Regions from separate parts of the Homo sapiens genome. Here region 2 is linked to region 1. Evidence: fine-mapped expression QTL. A gene starts in region 1. The other region holds a variant in brackets. All regions are shown on one strand. Distances are from middle to middle.

Evidence for each region.
Region 2: its variant is fine-mapped to the expression of RAB8A in whole blood (INTERVAL, PIP above 0.99).

What each region holds. Positions count from the first base shown.
Region 1 is chr19:16,108,428-16,116,473 of GRCh38, forward strand. It overlaps RAB8A (RAB8A, member RAS oncogene family), which reads left to right and starts at 3,462. Exons shown (of 8, transcript NM_005370.5): 1 at 3,462-3,598. The coding sequence starts at 3,475. RefSeq lists a silencer at 2,845-3,504.
Region 2 is chr19:16,136,139-16,144,551 of GRCh38, forward strand. It overlaps HSH2D (hematopoietic SH2 domain containing), which reads left to right and starts at 7,547. Exons shown (of 6, transcript NM_001382417.1): 1 at 7,547-7,636. HSH2D-AS1 (HSH2D and RAB8A antisense RNA 1) reads right to left here and starts at 3,777. Exons shown (of 2, transcript NR_199156.1): 1 at 3,597-3,777. RefSeq lists enhancers at 5,348-5,417, 6,840-6,889, 6,988-7,682, 7,170-7,329, 7,410-7,669 and 2 more. The variant T/C (reference allele first, on the strand shown) is at 5,124.

The DNA of each region.
Region 1 (8,046 bases):
TAAAAAAATTAGCCTGCCATAGTAGCGTGCAGATGTAGTCCCAGCTACTTGGGAGGCTGAGGTGGGAGGATGGCTTGAGCCCAGGAATTCCAGACCAGCCTGGGTAACATAGCAAGACCCCATCTCTACAAAAAATAAAAATTAGCCATGCGTGGTGGTGCATGCCAGTAGTTCCAGCTACTCTGGAGGCTGAGGTGGGAGAATCACTGGAGCCTGGGAGGCGGAGGTTGCAGTGAGTGAAATCACACCATTGCTCTCCAGCCTGGGCCACAGAACAAGACCCTGTCTCAAAAATAAGTAAATAAATGAGGATAATACCAAGAAAAAAGAATATTCAGAGGTGATCAAGACTATCAAATACCACAGAGGCTGAGGCCTGTAGGTGGTCAATGCCTCTGGTTGAAGCTTTTTTAACCAGAGCTAGATTAGCAGAAGAATGAGCTGAAGTGGAAGGGAGGAGGAAAGGCTGGGCCCTCCTTCCACAGATCCTTAAGTAAGCCTCAAGGCCCCGGAGGCCCCAGAGTGACCTAGAACAGACTGGACCATCTCTAAGAAGCAGGGAGCCCTAGTGATCAAACTGCGGCCTGGGAAGCTTGGCACTCTGAGTTCAGATACCAAATTCCCACTTTTAAGCAGGAAGGGGGAAAAGTCACTTAACCTCCTCTGGCTTCAGTTTTCTCACCATTAAACAGGAAAAAAACAATAACATCGTTTTGCTGGGCTGGTACTGGGATTAAAATTTTAAGAGTCAGGGGCCGGGTGCAGGGGCTCACGCCTGTAATCCCAGTACTTTGGGAGGTGGAGGCAGGCGGATCACGAGGTCAGGAGTTCGAGACCAGCCTGGCCAACACAGTGAAACCCCATCTCTACTAAAAATACAAAAAAATACACCACACCAGGCGTGGTGGTGGGTGCCTGGAATCCAAGCTACTTGGGAGGCTGAGGCAGGAGAATCGCCTGAACCCGGGAGGCAGAGGTTGCAGTGAGCCAAGATCGCGCCATTGCACTCCAGCCCTGGTGACCGTGAGAGACTCCATCTCAGAAAAAAAAAAAAGTCAGGGTCTTGCTCCGTCGCCCAGGCTGGAGTGCAATGGTGCGATCACAGCTCACTGCTGCCTTGACCTCCTGGGCTCAAGGGATCCTCCCACCTTAGCCTCCTGAGTAGCTGGGACTACAAGCATACACCACCATACCTGGCTAATTTTTTAAAAAAATTTTTTGTTTTTTGAGATGGAGCCTTGCTCTGTCACCCAGGCTGGAATGCAGTGACACAATCTCGGCTCACTGCAACCTCCGCCTCCCAGATTCAAGCAATTCTGGTGCCTCAGCCGCCTGAGTAGCTGGGACTACAGGCGCACATGACCACACCTGCCTAGTTTCTGTATTTTTAGCAGAGATGGTGTTTTACCATGTTGGCCAGGCTGGTCTGGAACTCCTGACCTCAGGTGATCCACCTGCCTTGGCCTCCCAAAGTGCTGGGATTACAGGTGTGAACCACCTCGCCTGGCCAAAAAACTTTTTTTTTTTTGCAGAGATGGAGGTCTTGCTATGTTGCCCAGGCTGGTCTCCACCTCCTGGCCTCCAATGAACCTCCACCTCAGCCTCCCAAAGTGCTGGGATTACAAGCGTGCACCATGACGCCCAGCTAATTTTATTTGTTGTAGAGATGGGGATCTCCCTATCTTGTCCGGGCTGGTCTTGACCTCCTAAGCTCAAGCAATCCTCCTGCCTCCCAAAGTGCTGACTCCCAAAGTGCTGGGATTACAGGCCTGAGCCACCACACCCAGCTGCAAGCCCGATTTTCCAAATGTATCTCTCCTCTGTTTTTCTCTTTCTTTTTTTTTTTTTTTTTTTTTTTGAGACGTAGTCTCATTCTGTCGCCCAGACTGGAGTGCAGTGGCGCGATCTCGGTTCACTGCAGGCTCCGCCTCCCGGGTTCACACCATTCTCCTGCCTCAGCCTCCCGAGTAGCTGGGACTACAGGCGCCCGCCACTACTCCCGGGTAATTTTTTGTGTTTTTAGTAGAGACGGGGTTTCACCGCGTTAGCCAGGATGGTCTCGATCTCCTGACCTCCTGATCCGCCCGCCTCGGCCTCCCAAAGTGCGGGATTACAGGCCTGAGCCACCGCGCCCAGCCTTTTTTTCTTTTGATAGGGTCTTGCTCTGTCGCCCAGGCCGAATTGCAGTGGGGCGATCACGGCTTACTGCACCCTCAACCTCCTGGCTTCCCAAAGCACTGGGATCACAGACGGGAGCCAACGCCCCGGCCAGTTTTTTCAACGTTGAGAGCCCTGGCCCCTAGATAGGACCCAGCATCCTCACTGCTCTAACCCCTCCCCCCCCACCATCCCCGGGCTGGCCCGGACAACCCCTAAGGTGGCCGAGGGCGGGCCCTGAGGAGGCCGGCGCGCGCTTCCGGGCACAGCTTGTGGCGGTGAAGCCGCTCAGATGGCGGAGGCCTTGGGTATCTCTAAGCAGATCGCTAGGCCGCAGACCTCGGAGCTCGTCTTGGGTCACTTTTATTTATTTTTTTTGAGACGGAGTCTCTCTCTGTCGCCCACGCTGCAGTGCAATGGCGCGATCTCGGCTCACTGCAAGCTCCGCCTCCCAGATTCAAGCAATTCTCTGCCTCAGCCTCCCGAGTGGCTGGGATTACAGGCGCCCGCCACCACGCCCGGCTAATTTTTGTATTTTTAGTAGAAACGGGGTTTCACCATCTTGGCCAGGCTGGTCTTGAACTCCTGACCTCGTGATCCACGCGCCTCGGCTTCCCAAAGTGTGGGAATTAAAGGCGTGAACCACCGCGTCCGGCTTGGGTCACTTTTCGAGTATACAGCTCCTCCTCTCTCCTTCCTCCCTAGGCCCCCACTGCCCCGACTCGCAGGCCGCAGACAAGGCTGAGAGCGCTACCTTGCTTTCCCGCGCTCGCCTCGGTGCCTACTGCGCCTGCGCGAGCTGTGAGGGCGGGACCCAGAGACACCCGCCCCAACTACTGGCGTGCGCCCTCTGCTGTCGCCTAACGGAACTCCGGGCGCGCGTGCGCACGCACCCCAAGCCACGCCCCGCCAGGCTGCCGGCGCGCGAGCGGTTGGCGCCGCTCCCTGCCTTCCCTCTCCTACAGTGGGGCGGGGCCGGGCCGCCCGAGTCGGGGGTGGAAGGCGGGGGCCACATAATGCCACGCCCCCGCCTCGTCCCCATTTGAAGCCCCGCGACTCTTCACTGCTGGTCAATCAGAGCCCGTGCTCTCCCTAGTGCCGGCCAATGGGAGGTGCGCTCGGGCTGCTTCCGGCTCCGCGCTCCGCTCGCCCCCTCCCAAGGTCTCCCCGCGACTGGCGGGACGCAGGGGCGGGCGTCGGCCGCGGTGACGCGCAGCGGGCCTGGAGCCAATAAGGGGCGGGCTCGGTGCTGATGGACGGTGCTGGTGGCCAGTGGAGAGGCGCTGGCCGCACTTCCCGTCGGGGAGAGAGTGTAATATGGCGAAGACCTACGATTACCTGTTCAAGCTGCTGCTGATCGGGGACTCGGGGGTGGGGAAGACCTGTGTCCTGTTCCGCTTCTCCGAGGACGCCTTCAACTCCACTTTTATCTCCACCATAGGTAACGGGACCGGGGAATGGCTGGGGGCGCCGGAGGCCCGGGCTGGGCGCGCCCCTGAGGGGCTGGGGCTGAGGGATCTACAGGGCTGGACGGGCCGAGGGCGCTGAGAGGGTCGAGGGGGCCTAAAGGGAGAAGAGCAGTCGCCTGCACCGCCGTTCGGGGGTTCCTGGGCCGTGGTGGGGGAGACCAGGTGCCCATTTTGCAGATAGGGAGACTGAGGCTCCGACCCTCAGCCCGCTCGTTAGGGCGTGTTATGTCTTGGGCTGGGGTCTTCGCGCCCGTCCTCTCGATCTGTCCTAGCAGCAGCCCTCGAAGCGGTTCTTTTGAGGCTCTTGCCTTACAGAAGTGGAAACTGAGTCATGGGGAATTGGCCATGGGAAAAAGACAGTGGCATCTCACCTTAATGAGCATTTACTATGTGCCAAGTGCTTCACGTGCATTTTCACACTCTTCAGTTCTTGGTGTTAAGTGCTGTTATGAGCCCGTCTGACAAGATGAGGAATCTGAGGCTCAGGGAGGGCATGGAACTTGCCCAAGGCCACACAGTCTGCACGTGGTGAGAATGGGATTTGATGGAATTTGAACCTGGCTGTGTCTCAACCCAAAACTCGAGGCTTAGCTCTCCTAGAGAGATGCCACTGCACACTCCCAGCTGATGACAAGCTCAGCTAATGCACCTTGGAGCCGGGACTCTAACCCACACCATTCCTGCTCTTTTCTCTGGAGCGTTCAGAGGTTGAGCCCCTCTCCCTGACCATGCTTCCCCTCATAAGCGTATTTTCCTCTAGAAGGAATGATAAGAAGAGTCAGGACCTTTTCCCTGCCCACCTTTCATCCTGCTCCAGGAATGACAGCAATGGCAAGTGACAGCACTGCCTGCCCTGGGACCTGTCATCCCCAAGAAGATGCAAGATAAAAGCCTCAGCGAGAAACTAAATCAGCCACTGCCACAGACAGCCTTGACTTCCCTATCAAAGGGCCCAAGACTCCAGCTGTCACTTTAGAACAGCTTTTCCTGTAGGGCCAGCCCACATTGTGGTTGAACAGAATTGGCTTGGTGCATCTCAGTTGTGATGTCCACAGAAGTGGAGCTGACCTCTCTCAGTGCCACAAAAGCAGTCCTGGCCCACAATGAAAAGGTTTGACCCAGGAGTAACACCTATTTGAGTGGCTTGTGAGCTCTGTAGCCCTGCTAGGGATGGGGAAAGTGGGGGAACGGTCACTAAGTCCAGGAGTTTATTCCGACTCAAGAAAACCTAGGGAATGGCCTTTGCTTTACTGTGTCACTTTGACAGAATCGTGTTATCTCCCTGAACCCCAAGATAATGTGCTAATTCCATTCTTGCCCTCCTCCAGGAGCTATGCTTTATTTATTTTATTTTATTTTATTTTTTGAGACGGAGTCTAGCTCTTTTGCCCAGGCTGGAATCCAGCGGCAGGATCTCGGGTCACTACAACCTCTGCCTCCCGGGTTCAAGCAATTCTCCTGCCTCAGCCTCCCTAGTAGCTGGGATTATAGGCACCCGCCACCACGTCCAGCTAATTTTTGTATTTTTAGTAAATACAGGGTTTCACTGTGTTGGTCAGGCTGGTCTCGAACTCCTGACCTTGTGATCTGCCTGCCTTGGCATCCCAAAGTGCTGGGATTACAAGCATGAGCCACCGCACCCAGCGGAGCTGTGCTTTATAAAACAGTTATATGCCAGATGTAAAATAGAGAGAATTGACTGGAAATCATTACGTCTGGTTTCCAGTTGCTGTTTGCCCTTGAATGTGCACTACCCCTCTCTGAGCCCTGCTGTCTTTAGAGCAGGAGTGACACTGTCTGCCCAGCCTAGTGCCCTGGTGGTTGAGGATTAGAATTAGACAATAAGGGGTTGTCACCACAACCAGAGGCTATCTAGAGGAAGCAAATGAATGGCTCCTGCAGTGACAGCATCCAGCCTCTGAAGACAGATGTTTCTGAATTCTTCCCCCTCCCCCACTCCAAGGCTAAACTTTAGGGTAATTCTTGTGCTCCAACCAATCAAGAAGTGGCGTTAATTCAGCCTGGGCAACATGGCAAACCCCATCTCTACAAAAAATAAAATAAAATCAGCCGGGCACAGTGGCTCACCCATGTAGACCCAGCCACTTGGGAGGCCAAGGTGGGAGGATCGATTGAGCCCAGGAGGTCAAGGTGCAGTGAGCTGTGATGGTGTCACTGCACTCCAGCCTGGGCAACAGAGCGAGACCCTGTCTTAAAAAATAATAATAAAAATAAAAGAAAGAAAGAAATGATGTTAACTGTGAGCAGACTGGCTTGCATTCACTCAGATCCCAGTTTCCCAGCCTTCCCCACAAACCCCCCTCTTTTTTTTTTTTTTTTTTTGAGACAGTCTCTCTTTGTCACCCAGTCTGGAGTGCAGTGGCGCGATCTCGGCTCACTGCAACTTCCACCTCCCAGGTTCCAGCGATTCTCCTGTCTCAGCCTCCCAAGTAGCTGGGATTACAAGCACCTGCCACCATGCCCAGCTAATTTTTGTATTTTTTTTTTTTTTTTTTTAGTAGAGATGGGGTTTCACCATGTTGGCCAGGCTGGTCTCGAACTCCTGACCTCGTGACCGCCCACCTTGGCCTCCCAAAGTGCTGGGATTACAAGCATGAGCCACCGCGCCCAGCCCAACCCCCCTCTTTAGAGTTACTTTGAGCTTTAAAGAGGCTTTCTTCCATTTGCAGATGAGGATGTGACTTGGTGAAAGTTACCTAGCAAGGTGGAGGTGGCACCTGACCCTAAGATCCCTCCCTCCCACCCCTTCATTCCCCTCCTTCCATTTGTAGCCTTCTGTCTTCTAGGAAAGTCTAATTCACCATGACCTTGAAGGTCAGACCTCATAATTCTTAGGCCTCATAAAGTTTACACTTCCTAATTAAATTTGGCATGTTAATAAAACCCAGAGGAGTGTAGGGCGGAGTGCTGCTGTGGAGCTTGGCCAACCTAACAGTGCTCCTCGATTTTTTGTGTCCCTGTACACGTGTGACAGGAAATGGGGAATGTTTTAGGAAGCCCAGGCACACTGGGCTGTCTAGTCCTGAAGCAGTATCACCTTAATGCTTAAAGGTGATTCCATAAATTAGCCATACGTGGTGGCGCTTGCCTGTATTCCCAGCTACTCAGGAGGCTGAGGCAGGAGAATCGCTTGAATCCAGGAGGCAGAGGTTGCAGTGAGCCAAGATTGTGCCAGTGCACTCCAGCCTGGGCAACAGAGCAAAACTCTGTCTCCAAAAAAAAAAAGAAGCAATTCTATATTGGCTGAGTGTACCTCTGGGTTTTCTTTATAGACAAGGATTGAGTGGCTATTCATTTTCTGCCACTCAATCCTTAACATTTTGCCAAAAGTTACATTTCATCAAAGCCTATTCTCAGAAGCCCCATAGATCATTTGTGGTGTGAACTTGGCCCTGTAGCTCCCTGGAATGGGTTCTCACCAGCCTGGCTCGGCGCCACTGCCTCCTCAGGGGCCCATTGATTCCTCCAGTGAAAGGGTTGGCATTTGAGAAAGTGCTTTGTGAACCGCTCAACACCGCGTAGACCCTGTTGCGCTTTAATACTTTGATCCAGCCATATTTTGCCAGTGTCTTCTGTGGGCCAGGCAGCCATTTTGGCAAGAGGGCTGCAGAAAGGACACAGGTGAGTCAAGGTGCGTGCAGGACTGGGGTACCAGCTTCTAGCAAATGTGTATTCAACCCCTGTGTGTTCAGTCACTGGAGGTAATAGCAGTGGATGAGACTTGTCAGTTCCCTGCCCCAGGGAGCTTACGTTTGAGAGGGCGAAAGTCCAGTGCTGGGGCTGGATGGATGGAATTAGCATCCCCACCCTGGGTTCAGAGAGGCCCAGCCAGGCCTGGGCCTCAAGTCTTCCCCAGCAGGCACTTGAACAAACTCCTGGTGGCAAAGGCTGGGTCTGGCTGTTTCTCATCTACATGGGCCATTATGATCTGCAAGCATTATGCCCAGGTCCATGCAGCAGATACATACATGTATGTCAGTTATGTTAATAAATAGGTAAAGGGAGAACTGATGAGGATGGTCAGAAAGGTTCCCCTGAGGAGGGAACTTGAATGGGAACCTGAACAAAGGGATAGCCAGGTAGCTACAGAAGAAAGAACTTTCCAGGGCAGGGAAGAGCAAACATCAAAGCCCCGAGTCAGGAGCATGCTTGGAATGTTGAGGAAATCGCTGTGTGGATGGTGTGGCCAGAGAGAGCAGGTCATGAGCCAGAGTGCTGAGAGGTGACCAGGTTAGGCAGGACCTTGACACACATGAGCAGCTGTTTCCACTTTATTCGAGGGAAGTGGGGCAGGGAAGCCACTGAAAGAGGCTTTAAAAAAAAATAGCTTTATGAGATAGAATTCGCATACAGTTCACCCATTTGCAGTGTACAATTCAGTGGCTTTGGGTACATTCAC
Region 2 (8,413 bases), 28 kb after region 1:
TCCTTGAGCCTCCGAGCACGCACTCAGGAGGACCCTGAATCCTGATACTAAAACTCAAAAGTCACCCCCTGCCACGGATGCCTGATAAATGGCCACTTTGGGAAACTTGCTTTCTTTCCACGAAACTTTGCAGTTTCTGTCCAAAACTGCAAAATTCGGAGACAGTGACAGCCAATGGCAATGAATAGCAGATCCTGACTGGGAACCCATCCTGTGCCTGGCTTTCTTCTGAGCCCTTAATGGGTCACGGATAAGAGGGAGCTGCCTGGGCCCGAATCCCAGCACCACTCAAGACCCACGGTGATAGAGGAGCTAGAAAGAAATTATTTAGGCAGATAGTGAGGGCACCAGAGTCCTTGGCGGAATTTCTTTTCTAACAAAAAGCAGCCCAAGAAATTATTTTTTCTAACAAAAAGCAGTCTGAGAAATCGAGCTGCAGACATAGATAAGCGAGCTAGAAGCTTGCACGGGGAAATGCCAGCAGCTGCGTCAATAGAAAACAGTTGCCTGGGTGCCAGGCAAGACCAACGTGGAGACTCCATCTTCCCTGTTTTTATTACCACGTGTACAGTAAAGGGATGGGCAACATGGCACAGCTCAGGCAGAGGACCCGCTTGCATGATAAAAGATTAGGGGTGGCCAGAAATTCACACCCGATGCAAATGGCACACCTAGTCCTAACCAGTTTTTCACACCCTATGCAAATATAACACCTAGTCCAACCAATCTTTCACGCCTTATGTAAATCAAACACTGCCTCCTCACCAGGCATCTATAAAATCCCCTGCATTTCACTGTGCATCTGTCAATGCATTTTTTCAGGACCTCTCTCTGCAGGAGGGAACTCTTCTCTTTCTTTTGCCTATTAAGCTTCTCTTAACCTCACTCTTGTGTGTCCACGTCCTTGTTCTCCATGGCCATGAGATGACAAATCTCGGGTATCTACCCCAGATGAGGCCGTTTCAATGGCACAGCCTTGGACACATGCCCTCAACAACTGAACTTAGTTTCCTCTCTTGCAAAATAGGGGGGATCATAGTTTCCACCTCATAGGATGGCTATGAAGAGCCAGGGAGATGATGGATCCCAGAGGAGGCACAGGTACATACATAATGAGCACAGAGACAGAATAGGCTGATATCAGCATCATCACTGTCCTCATCACTGTCATCATCATCATTATCATTATTTTAAAGCAGGGTCATCCGGCCGGGCGCGGTAGCTCACACCTATAATCCCAGCACTTTGGGAGGCCGACGTGGGTGGATCACTTGAGGTCAGGAGTTCGAGACCAGCCTGGCCAATATGGTGAAACCCCGTCTCTACTAAAAATACAAAAATTAGCCAGAAATCACTTGAACCAGGGAGGCGGAGGTTGCAATGAACCTAGATCATGCCACTGCACTCCAGCCTGGGCAACAGAGCGAGACTCCGTCTCAAAAAAAAAAAAAAAGAAAAAAAGAAGCAGGGTCTTGCTCTGTTGCCCAGGCTGGAGTGCAGTGGTGGGATCATGGCTCACTGCAGCCTCAACCTCCCAGGCTCAAGTGATCCTCCTGCCTTAGCCTCCCAAGTAGCTGGTACTACAGGTGCATACCACCACACCCAACTAATTGTTTTACTTTTTTGTAGAGATGGTGTCTCACTGCCCAGGCTGGTCTTGAACTGGCCTCAAGTGATCCTCCCACCTCAGCCTCCCAAAGTGTTGGGATTACAGGTGTGAGCCACCACACCCACCCTGTTATTACTATGACCACCATTGTTCATCTTGTTCCCCAAGAAAAGTGCAGTGGTGCAATCTTGGCTCACTGCAACTTCTGCCTCCTGGGTTCAAGCAATTCTCATGCCTCAGCCTCCCGAGTAGCTGGGATTACAGGTCCCGCCACCACGCCTGGCTAATTTTTGTATTTTTAGTAGAGATGGAGTTTCACCATGTTGGCCAGGCTAGTCTCAAACTCTTGACCTCAGGTGATCCACCCACCTTGGCCTCCCAAAGTGCTAGAATTACAGGTGTGAGCCACCGTGTCCAGCCAGTTCTGGACATTTCATATCAATGGAATCATGCACTAGGTGGCCTTTGTGTCTGGCTTCTCTCAGCATCATGTTTTTGGGGCTCATCCACATTGTAGCATGGAGCAGTGCTTCCTTCCTTTCTGTGGCTGAATCATATTTCATGGTGTGGATGATGGAACCACGTTTTGTTTACCCATTCATTCATTCATGGACATTTGGGTTGTTTCCACCGTTTGGACACCTTAGCTGTCATCATCTGTGCCTCAGACATACCAAGTTCTTTCCTACCACAGGGCCTTTGCCCGTGCTGATTTTGTTTGTTTGTTTGAGATGGAGTCTCGCTCTGTTGCCCAGGCTGGAGTGCAGTGGCAAGATCTCAGCTCACTGCACCCTCCGCCTCCCGGGTTCAAGCGATTCTTCTGCCTCAGCCTCCCGAGTAGCTGGGACTACAGGCGTGCGCCACCATGCCCAGCTAATTTTTGTATTTTTGGTAGAGACAGGGTTTCACCATGTTGGCCAGGCTGGTCTCGATCCCTTGACTTCATGATCTGCCTGCCTCAGTCTCCCAAAGTGCTGGGATTACAGGTTTGAGCCACCGCACCCAGCCTGCCCTTGCTATTTTCTTTTCTGCCTGACTGTCCTGCATGTGAACTCATTCAGCATCTGTCTCCTCATAGACTGTGGGCCCTAGAAGGGTGGGGACCATGCCAATCTTGCCTTTTTTTTTTGAGACACAGTCTCACTCTGTGACCCAGGCTGGAGTGCAGTGGCATGATCTCAGCTCACTGCAACCTCCATCTCCCAGTTCAAGCAATTCTTCTGCCTCAGCCTCCTGAGTATCTGGGATTACAGGCATGAGCCACTACGCCCAACTAATTTTTGTGTTTTTAGTATAGACAGGGTTTCCCCATGTTGGCCAGGCTGGTCTTGAACTCCTGACCTCAGGTGATCTGCCCACCTCGGCCTCCCGAAGAGCTGGGATTACAGGCATAAGCCACAGCACCCGGCCCGATCTTGCCTTCTGCTTCATCTGCAGCATCTAGCATGGTGCCCATCCAGAGCTGGGGCTCAGCCAGTGTTTGTGAAATCAATGAATGAATAGAATGAAGGCATTGTAGGAAGCTAAAATCATAAAATTACATCAAGTCCAGGGTTGGGCACAGTGGCTCATGCCTATAATCCCAACACTGGGAGGCTGGGGTGTGAGGATTGCTTGAGCTCAGGCGTTCTAGACCATCCTGGGCAACACAGCAAGACCCTGTCTACAAAATAAAAATTGAAAAATTAACCGGGCATGGTGGTGTGAGCTTGTGATTGCAGCTACTTGGGAGGCTGAGGCGGGAGGATCACTTGAGCCCGGGAGTTTGAGGTTGCAGGGAGCTATGATGGCACAGTGCACTTCAGCCTGGGCAACAGAGTGAGACCTTGTCTCTAAAAAGAATCGCATCAAACCCAGTGTTGGCAGAGCCTAAGGGCTTCCCCACTCCCTGACATGTATGGGCCCAGCATTTTCCCAGCACTAAGATGGCATTGTGGCCACCTCCCCCAAGAGCCACCCCACGTGAATCTGTGAATGGCCCACTTACCAGCTGCGGCCTCTGCTGAGAAGCCCAGATCTGTCTCCCTGGAGAACCTGGTATCAGAGAGAGGGGGCCTTGGAATTCTAGCCCCGTTATCTCCCCATCAGGGCACCTTCGTTTTCCCCTCCACACCCTTCCTTCCTCTGGGGGACGCATGTCCGTTTGCGGGCCGAGGCCTGCGGACACTGAGGGGTGTGGGGGTGATTCTGTTGCGACATCTGAAAGGAAGACGTTAGTTTGTGGGAGACCACATCACCCAAGCAGGTCAGGGGAAGCGAGGTTGGGCCGTTTGTGGTGAGGTCTTAGGGGACTGTGCTAGAGCTGGGCCAGCGTACCCCCATGTTCCTGGAAACTCTAAACCCCATGCAAATAAGAGCCCCGATGGTCAGACTTTCCCAGGAGGATCAGAGAAGTGAAGTGAAGTGAAGGCCAGGCCCGGTGGCTCATGCCTGTAATGCCAGCACTTTGGGAAGTCCAGGCAGGTAGATCGCTTGAGGCCAGGAGTTTGAGGCTGCAGTGAGTTGTACTTGCACCACTGCACTCCAGCCTGGGCAACAGAACAAGATCCTGTCTCAAAAAAATAAAAAATAAAAATAAATAAATAAATACTTCAGGCCTATAATCCCAGCACTTTGGGAGGCCAAGGTGGGCAGACCACTTGAGGTCAGGAGTTCAAGACCAACCTGGCCAACATGGTGAAACCCTGTCTCTACTAAAAATATAAAAATTAGCCAGGAGTGGTGGTGCACACTTATAATCTCAGCTACTGGGGAGACTGAGGCAGGAGAATCGCTTGAACCCGGGAGGTGGAGGTTGCAGTGAGCCAAGATCGCACCACTGTACTCCAGCCGGGGCGATAGAACAAGACATCATCTCAAAAATAAAAAGGCCAGATGCAGCAGCTGACACCTGTAATCCTAACACTTTGGGAGGCTGAGGCGGGAGGATCACTTGAACGAGACCAACCTGGCAACATGACAAAACCCCATCTCTTCAAAAATCCAAAAATTAGCCAGGCGTGGTGGTGGTGCTCCTGTAGTCCCAGCTACTCAGGAGGCTGAGATGGGAGGATCACTTGAGCCCAGGAAGTAGAGGCTGTGGTGAGCTGAGACTGCACCACTGCACTCCAGCCTGGGCAACAGAGTGAGGGGACCCTACTCAAAAAAAAAAGAAGAAGAAAAAGAGATTAGCCACAGAGAGGTGAAGTGAGTTGCCCAAGGCAGCTCAGCCCATGAGGTCTGAGGCCCAAGCCAGAGTCTCCCCCAGGCAAACACAAAGGCCTTGCTTGAATTAAGTCACAACAAAGAGTCCTGATTCTCTCACTCCCAACTCATCTCCATGTGCTGTGCTGGAGAGTTGCCTCTCCTAGCATCTTCACATGATTAAGGAGGGCTATTATGCCCATTGCACAGATGCAGAACTGAGGCTCAGAGAGGCTGAGCAACTCACCTTAGGACACACAGCAGGTGAGTGAGAAGCAGGGCTCCACGTGTCTCCTGCTTAGACCTTGTTGACCACAGAGGGCAGACGAGG[T/C]GCTGCTGTTGCCGAGGAGGAGCAGGGGGGTGAGAGAGGCACCCAGGGTGAGCCTGGGGTTATCTAGCCCAGCTGGGCCAGGGCAATAGGCCCTTGGGGAGGCCCCCAGTAGGATCTGGGCCCTTTCTGCCTGAAAGGAGAGGAGGAAGTAGTTTTGTTTGTCTGCCTGGGGTACGAGCACACGGCCAGAGCTGGCCAATCTGTTAGGCACACAGGGCCTGCACCCAGGACCCAAGTGCTGTGTGGGACTTCCCAAAGGGCTTCAGCTTATTTAAAATCAGAAGAAAAAAAACTGAACATCCTAATAATAAATATACAATAAGGAATCCAGCCTGGACCACATCGGTCTTAATGCCAACACAGTTGTAAAATAGAATTTTAAGCTGGCACGGCGGCCCACACCTGTAATCCCAGCACTTTGGGAGGCTGAGGCGGGTGGATCACCTGAGGTCAGGAGTTTGAGACCAGCCTGGCCAACATAGTGAAACCTTGTCTCTACTAAAAATACAAACATTAGCCAGGCGTGTTGGTGGGCACCTCTAATCCCAGCTACTCAGGAGGCTGAGGCAGGAGAGTCACTTGAACCAAGGTGGGCGGATCGCTTGAGCCCCAGGAGTTTGAGACCAGCCTGGGCAACACAGCAAGATCCCATCTCCAAAAAAAATATTTTTTTAATTAGTCAGGTGTGGTGGTGTGTGCCTGTAGTCCCAGCTACTTGGGAGCCTGAGGCAGGAGGATCACTTGAGTCCAGCAGTTCAAGACTGCAGTGAGCTATGATCATACCACTGCACTCCAGCCTGAGTGACAGAGTGAAACTCTGTCTCTAAAATAGGTTAGTCAATTAATAAAAATATTTTAAAATATTTTATAATGGAGGAAGTCCTGGTGTGGACCTATGCGTGCCATGAGACCCCAGCCTGTCCAGGCTCAATTCAGTTTCAAGGCCTTTGTGCCTGCTCTTCCCTCCCCCAGCCTGGGCAATATAGCAAGACCCCATCTCTACAAAAAAATATACTCTTTCTGCACTACGCACTCCCCAAATCAAGATGATTCCTTCTCACCCTCAAATGCCCCTTCCTTCACGTCAGTTAGGTCACCTCTGTGGGTTTGTGCAACTGCTGTTCCCACTTCCTGTTTCCCCTTTGGATTTTTTTGTTTGTTTGGGGTTTTTTGTTTTTTTGTTTTGTTTTGTTTGGTTTTCGTTGGTTTTGTTTTGTTTGAGACGGAGTTACACTCTCGCTGCCCAGGCTGGAGTGCAGTGGTGAGATCTCAGCAAACCGCAACCTCCACCTCCCGGGTTCAAGCGATTCTCCTGCCTCAGCCTCCCAAATAGCTGGGATTACAGGCATGTGTCACCACGCCGGGCTAATTTTGCAGTTTTAGTAGAGACGGGATTTCTCCATGTTGGTCAGGCTGGTCGCGAACTCCTGACCTCAAATGATCTGCCCACCTTGGCCTCCCAAAGTGCTGGGATTACAGGCATGAGCCACCGCACCCAGCTGGTGTTTTTTTGTTTGTTTGTTTTGCGGGGGACAGAATTTCCCTCTGTCATCCAGGCTAAAGTGCAGTGGCGTGATCTCGGCTCACTGCAGCCTCTGCGTCCCTGGTCCAAGCGATTCTCTTGCATCAGCCTCCTGAGTAGCTGGGATTACAGGCACCCGCCACCACGCCTAATTTTTGTATTTTTAGTAGAGACAGGGTTTTACCATGTTGGCCAGCCTGGTCTCAAACTCCTGGCCTCAAATGATCCACCCGCCTCGGCCTCCCAAAGTGCTGGGATTACAGGCGTGAGCCACCGCGCCCAGTTTCTGTTCCCCCTTTGTTGCTTTTGTTTTTGTTTTGAGAAGGAGTCTCACTCCGTTGCCCAGGCTGGAGTGCAATGGTGCGATCTCTGCTCACTGCAACCTCCGCCTCCCGGGTTCAAGCAATTCTTGTGCCTCAGCCTCCTGAGTAGCTGGGATTACAGGCGTGCGCCGCCACACCCGGCTGATTTTCGTATTTTAATAGAGACGGGGTTTTGCCATGTTTGCCAGGCTGGTCTCAAACTCCTGACCTCAAGTGATCCGCCTGCCTCAGCCTGTCAAAGTGCTGGGATTGCAGGTGTGAGCCACCGCACCCGTTCCCCGTTCTCCCTTTGTAATGATGTCTCACTCCTCTTCACTGCTTGATAGATTATAGATGCCAGGAGTCAGGGGGCCTGCACCTGTCTCCGTGTCACCCCTGTGTCCTCCAAACAGCAGGCACACAGTAGGTGCTCAATAACAACTTGCTGGGGGCAAGACAGGAGCAAGCTGTCTCTGCACCTGTGGCACCAGATGCTTTGTTGGACTGCAGACAGGGTGACTTGAGCTGTCCTTGTTCCGCCCCCAGGGCTCACCTGCTTGAGGAAACAGGAACTGCCTCGGGGCAGCCAGCCCCGCCCCATTGACGTGCAGACCTTGAATCGAAACCCAGGCTCCTGCAGGCACTGGCACAGCTACAGCGAGGGCCTCGGCCATCCAAGGGTCTCCCAGGTATGTGACCCAAGAGCCTCAGCCCTCGAGGAGACAGAACGTGGGGGCTGGGCTAGGCCAGAAGGAGGGACAGGGCTAGTGGGGCCTGGGGTGGCAGGAGGGATTTTCTAGGGGCATGGGGGAGAGCTTCGTGGAGGAGGGGGTATTTGTGGTGACCACAAATGGAAAATGGAGCTGGAGTTAGGGAAAAGGGGGTCTTGGCAAGACAACAGCATGAGCAAAGGTATGGAGAGGCAAGAGAGAGAGAGCAAGGATGTCTTTAGGTCTAGAATGTGGGTAGCGGGGAAGTAGAGGAGGCTCCCAGGCCAGGGTCAGGAGCTTGAATTTGAGCATGCGGTCTTTCATCACTAGATAGCTGTTCACCAGCAAAGACCCTTGCACCCTCCTCTGTGCCAGGCCAGCACCAGGACACAGAAAAAAACAACAACACAGGAACCTAGCCCTAAGCCCTGATCCCTAGGAGGCCCTCAGGCTGGTGGAGACAGAGCAAGATAAAGACACTCTAGCTCCATGGAGTCATGGCTGGACCAGAGAGAGGAACAGGGGGGAACGTTGGGGACAGAGAGGGGTGCCAGGGTGTTGTCTGGGGGGAGATGCAGGAAAGCTGCCTGGAGGAGGGGACATTTTTACTGGGTTTTGAAGGATAAATAGGAGCTCTTCCAAGTAAAAAAAAAGAATAAGCCTGTAAACATTACCCCATGATAGGTCACAACTGGATTCATGAATATTGTATATATATCTCTATATATACACAGTGCTAGCTAAACTTTCCTAGGT